Linked DNA regions of Homo sapiens: region 1 is linked to region 2. The links come from fine-mapping of genetic effects on gene expression. A gene starts in region 2. The other region holds a variant in brackets. All regions are shown on one strand. Distances are from middle to middle.

What was found.
Region 1: its variant is fine-mapped to the expression of XXYLT1 in whole blood (INTERVAL, PIP above 0.99).

What each region holds. Positions count from the first base shown.
Region 1 is chr3:195,086,976-195,089,872 of GRCh38, reverse strand. All of the region lies in intron 3 of XXYLT1 (xyloside xylosyltransferase 1), which reads left to right. Among named protein-coding and RNA genes, the nearest start is that of XXYLT1-AS1, 6.2 kb to the left of the region's middle. The variant T/C (reference allele first, on the strand shown) is at 1,642.
Region 2 is chr3:195,270,031-195,272,927 of GRCh38, reverse strand. It overlaps XXYLT1 (xyloside xylosyltransferase 1), which reads left to right and starts at 1,769. Exons shown (of 4, transcript NM_152531.5): 1 at 1,769-2,373. The coding sequence starts at 1,870. RefSeq lists silencers at 1,139-1,368, 1,619-2,148, 2,309-2,488 and an enhancer at 1,739-2,530.

The sequences.
Region 1 (2,897 bases), 180 kb after region 2:
GCAACCCCTGCCTTTTTTTGTTTTCCATTGGCTTGGTAGATCTTCCTCCATCCTTTTATTTTGAGCCTATGTGTGTCTCTGCATGTGAGATGGGTTTCCTGAATACAGCACACTGATGGGTCTTGACTCTTTATCCAATTTGCCAGTCTGTGTCTTTTAATTGGAGCATTTAGTCCATTTACATTTAAAGTTAATATTGTTATGTGTGAATTTGATCCTGTCATTATGATGCTAGCTGGTTATTGTGCTCGTTAGTTGATGCAGTTTCTTCCTAGTCTCGATGGTCTTTACATTTTGGCATGATTTTGCAGCGGCTGGTACCGGTTGTTCCCTTCCATGTTTAGCGCTTCCTTCAGGAGCTCTTTTAGGGCAGGCCTGGTGGTGACAAAATCTCTCAGCATTTGTTTGTCTGTAAAGTATTTTATTTCTCCTTCACTTATGAAGCTTAGTTTGGCTGGATATGAAATTCTGCGTTGAAAATCCTTTTCTTTAAGAATGTTGAATATTGGCCCCCACTCTCTTCTGGCTTGTAGGGTTTCTGCCGAGAGATCCACTGTTAGTCTGATGGGCTTCCCTTTGTGGGTAACCCGACCTTTCTCTCTGGCTGCCCTTAACATTTTTTCCTTCATTTCAACTTTGGTAAATCTGACAATTATGTGTCTTGGAGTTGCTCTTCTCGAGGAGTATCTTTGTGGCGTTCTCTGTATTTCCTGAATCTGAACGTTGGCCTGCCTTGCTAGATTGGGGAAGTTCTCCTGGATAATATCCTGCAGAGTGTTTTCCAACTTGGTTCCATTCTCCCCATCACTTTCAGGTACACCAATCAGACGTAGATTTGGTCTTTTCACATAGTCCCATATTTCCTGGAGGCTTTGCTCATTTCTTTTTATTGTTTTTTCTCTAAACTTCCCTTCTTGCTTCATTTCATTCATTTCATCTTCCATTGCTGATACCCTTTCTTCCAGTTGATTGCATCGGCTCCTGAGGCTTCTGCATTCTTCACGTAGTTCTCGAGCCTTGGTTTTCAGCTCCATCAGCTCCTTTAAGCACTTCTCTGTATTGGTTATTCTAGTTATATATTCTTCTAAATTTTTTTCAAAGTTTTCAACTTCTTTGCCTTTGGTTTGAATGTCCTCCCGTAGCTCAGAGTAATTTGATCGTCTGAAGCCTTCTTCTCTCAGCTCGTCAAAGTCATTCTCCATCCAGCTTTGTTCTGTTGCTGGTGAGGAACTGCGTTCCTTTGGAGGAGGAGAGGTGCTCTGCTTTTTAGAGTTTCCAGTTTTTCTGTTCTGTTTTTTCCCCATCTTTGTGGTTTTATCTACTTTTGGTCTTTGATGATGGTGATGTACAGATGGGTTTTTGGTGTGGATGTCCTTTCTGTTTGTTAGTTTTCCTTCTAACAGACAGGACCCTCAGCTGCAGGTCTGTTGGAGTACCCGGCCCTGTGAGGTGCCCCGCTGGGGGGTGCCTCCCAGTTAGGCTGCTCGGGGGTCAGGGGTCAGGGACCCACTTGAGGAGGCAGTCTGCCCGTTCTCAGATCTCCAGCTGCGTGCTGGGAGAACCACTGCTCTCTTCAAAGCTGTCAGACAGGGACCTTTAAGTCTGCAGAGGTTACTGCTGTCTTTTTGTTTGTCTGTGCCC[T/C]GCCCCCAGAGGTGGAGCCTACAGAGGCAGGCAGGCCTCCTTGAGCTGTGGTGGGCTCCACCCAGTTCGAGCTTCCCGGCTGCTTTGTTTACCTAATCAAGCCTGGGCAATGGCGGGCGCCCCTCCCCCAGCCTCGCTGCCACCTTGCAGTTTGATCTCAGACCGCTGTGCTGGCAATCAGCGAGACTCCGTGGGGTAGGACCCTCCGAGCCAGGTGCGGGATGTAATCTCGTGGTGCGCCGTTTTTTAAGCCCGTTGGAAAAGCGCAGTATTCAGGTGGGAGTGACCCGATTTTCCAGGTGCGTCTGTCACCCCTTTCTTTGACTCCCTTTGAAAGGGAACTCCCTGACCCCTTGCGCTTCCCAAGTGAGGCTTTGCCTCGCCCTGCTTCGGCTCGCGCACGGTGCGCGCACCCACTGACCTGCGCCCACTGTCTGGCACTCCCTAGTGAGATGAACCCGGTACCTCAGATGGAAATGCAGAAATCACCGTCTTCTGCGTCGCTCACGCTGGGAGCTGTACACCAGAGCTGTTCCTATTCGGCCATCTTGGCTCCTCCAGTAGCATCTAATTTTAATGCCCGCTTTGATCTGGCTGTTAAAAATTCCACTCTTTATGTTCATTCAAATTCCAGTTGGCTGTTCTGGGTAAGCCCAGGCCCCAGTGCCCTATCCGGAGAGAGCTGAGAAGTTGCAGGCCCTGCGTGCAGGGAGCCTGACTGCCTTGTCTCTGTGCTCTACCAGCTCCAGGCATACCTGTGTTGATACCTGAATAGAGCGCGCAGTGGGGAGAGACAGGGAGGGTAGCTCAGATGCTTTTCTGCTTTCACAGGGAGCACCCCAAGCACAGCAGATTTTCAAGAGATTTATCTGGAAGGCCTGGAGAAGCAACTCAAGCACAAGGGATCTGAGGAGGAGCCAGGGAGCACATTTCCAGTTTAAAGGGGAAAAATGTCTCCCTGGAGAGTGGGTACAAACGGGAAGAGGGCGGAAGAGGAGCTCCAGGGCCACACGCAGCCTGGCAAGGGCAAGGCCGGCTGTGTCCAGAGGAGCAGGAAAGGCGGGTTTGCTGCAGGCCACCTGGAGAGACGGTGGCGTGTCAACGGGCCACACGGGCAGTGCCTCCCAGCCCCCTTACTGCTCCCCGCAGCCTGCCCTGAGTTTAGAGAAGCTGCACCGAGGCAGGAGGAGGTGACCACAGTGCTGCCACCAAGGCGACCTGGAGCTGGGAAGGCCTAGGAGGCCACTCTCCCTCCT
Region 2 (2,897 bases):
TCGCCCAGGCTGGAGTGCAGTGTTATGATCTCGGCTCACTGCATCCTCTGCCTCCTAGGTTCAAGCGATTCTCTTGCCTCAGCCTCTCGAGTAGCTGGAATTGCAGGTGTCCGCCACCACACTGCCTACTTTTTTTTTTTTTTTGAGACAGAGTTTTGCTCTTGTCGCCCAGGCTGGAGTGCAGTGTTATGATCTCGGCTCACTGCAACCTCCACCTCCCAGGTTCAAGCGATTCTTCTGCCTCAGCCTCCTGAGTAGCTGGGATTACAGGCGCCCGCCACCATGTCTGGCTAATTTTTTGTATTTTTAGTAGAGACGGGGTTTCGCCATGTTGGGCAGGCTGGTCTCGAACTCCTGGCCTAAGGTGATCTGCCCTCCTCGGCCTCCCAAAGTGCTAGGATTACAGGCGTGAGCCACCATTCCCGGCCTAAGCCACCATGCTTGGCCTTGCTTTATTCTTATGGTTAAATATTTTGAACATTCTTAAATTATTAGGAAGATTTTCTAGAAATAAAAATGCTGTTTCAATGGTTGAGTATATTTTTGAGACTCATCCAATGTGGTAGGCACCGTGTTAGGTACTGGGTATATTGTGGTTAATAAAAAACAAATGTATATTCTGTTCTCTTGGAGTCACGTGTTCTTGCAATGAAGAAAGATGAGACTAGGGTAGTACATATATTTAGGTGGCCCTCACAGAATTATTGAGGATGGCACTTAGCCCAGACACTGGATAGGAGGTATTTAGAGATCATTTGTGTAGGTAGTGACATGTAAGCCAAGGTCTGAAGCAGAGAGGTTGGATAATCCATGCAACCTTACAATGTGGAAATAACAGGAAAAACCGTTTACCTAATCTCTGGTCAGAAATCAGAGAACTTGGCCAAAGAACTGAAGGGTTACTGTACTTACTCAAGTTCTTTGTCTATTTAGACAGCATGCACAGCACTTGCACGTGTTTACTTAAAAACTACTGGTATAGCCTCAATTCTTAGAAGACTGAAGTTAGTACGTTTTTATCTAGTTAGCAGTGTGCAACTGCCTAGGGTCAAAATTGCTACTGGCTAGCTGTGTGACTTTGGGCACGTGACCTCGGCGTGCAAAACTCCCTGGTACCCTCAAGGAGGCTCTTGATAAAGTGTTAAAAGTCTGTTTATAAAACAAAAGTGGATGAATGTCGCCCTCCAGGGCTTTGCGGTGCTGGGGCTCGGGGAGCAGCCTCGCAGGTTCGTGCGGGCGGCGGGGGCCCCCTGCTGGCCACATCCTCCAGCCTCCCTCCGCTCGGCCTCCGGCGCGACGTGCGGCCCGGGCCATTTCCTCCCAGGGCGGGGGAAAAGGGAGGAGCTGCCGGTTTAAATTGCCTAGCTGCAGCTCGTGTGCAGGGAGAGGCCGAGACGGCTTAAAGCCTCCAAGAAATTGAGGGAAAAAAGGTGCAGAGATTAAAGTTTTACCTCTTGGTGCCTCCAGCTTCGCTTTTGGCTAACCTAAGTTCCTCTGTTCGGGCGCCTCCATTCCCTTCAACACTCAGCTTGGATATCCTCTGGGGCTCGCCGCGTAGGGCGCCATTTCTCAGCCGGGACAGCGGGCCAGCCCTCAGCACGCTGGAGTCCGGAATCCCCCCCTCCCAACGCCGGGCGCCGGATCCCACCCTAACCCCTCCTCTAATACCCTTGGAACCTAGGACCCAGCGGTTTCGGCACGCCCGGCCCCGCCCCTCCGCGCACCGGCGCCCGCGATTGGCTCCAGGCGGCGCGGCCCCGCCCCTTTCATGGCCGCCGCCTGGCGCCGGGGCTAAGTGGCCGCCGGCGTCCGGGTACCCGAGGGCTCTCCCGCGTTGCTGGCACCGCTGGCGCCGCGGTCTCGTAGCGCATGGGCCTCCTCCGAGGCGGGCTCCCATGCGCTCGGGCCATGGCGCGCCTGGGCGCTGTGCGCTCCCACTACTGCGCCCTGCTGCTGGCCGCGGCGCTGGCCGTCTGCGCCTTCTACTACCTCGGCTCAGGCCGGGAGACCTTCTCCAGCGCCACCAAGAGGCTGAAGGAGGCCCGCGCCGGGGCTCCCGCCGCGCCCTCGCCGCCCGCGCTGGAGCTAGCGCGGGGCTCCGTGGCGCCAGCCCCCGGCGCGAAGGCCAAGAGCTTGGAGGGCGGCGGTGCCGGGCCGGTGGACTACCACCTGCTGATGATGTTCACCAAGGCGGAGCACAATGCCGCGCTGCAGGCCAAGGCCCGCGTCGCGCTGCGCTCACTGCTGCGCCTCGCCAAGTTCGAGGCGCACGAGGTGCTTAACCTTCACTTCGTGAGCGAGGAGGCCAGCCGCGAGGTGGCCAAGGGCCTGCTGCGGGAGCTCCTGCCGCCCGCCGCTGGCTTCAAGTGCAAGGTGAGCGGGCCGCGGCTGGGGGCTCCCGGTGGGTGGCCCACCCCATCCTAGGCGAGGTCAGTTTGCGCTCCCGGAGGGGATCCGGGGAACTAGCGGGTAGGATCTTCCCTGAGCTGCCCGCTTGCAATGTAGTGTTCACAACCTGCGGGAGGGCTCGTTCGGGGGCGTGTCCGGGAGCCAGACGCCCTCAGCTGGTGCTGAGGAGTGGAGCTGCGTTTTTAATGACCGCCTCGTTTTCCTCTCCCCCAGTTAAGCGCAGCCCCCAGGAGAGTCCGCGCGCCCCCATTTTGCTAACGTTGCAGGGTTCAGCACTGCCTTCAGAGTCTGCACCTCTGTTTATGTTCCTCAGTTTTTGACTTCTGAGGATGGGACTGGTCACCAGTAGTCATCCTGAGCAACTGGAGAGGGCCTTGGTGAGGCCTCTGGAAGTGTTGAAGTTGCAGTGACACTTCTCATTGCTCTTAAGGTATTTCAGTAGGATCTGGTCAAACTCATTGTGAACCATCTTATCTCCTCTCTGTGTC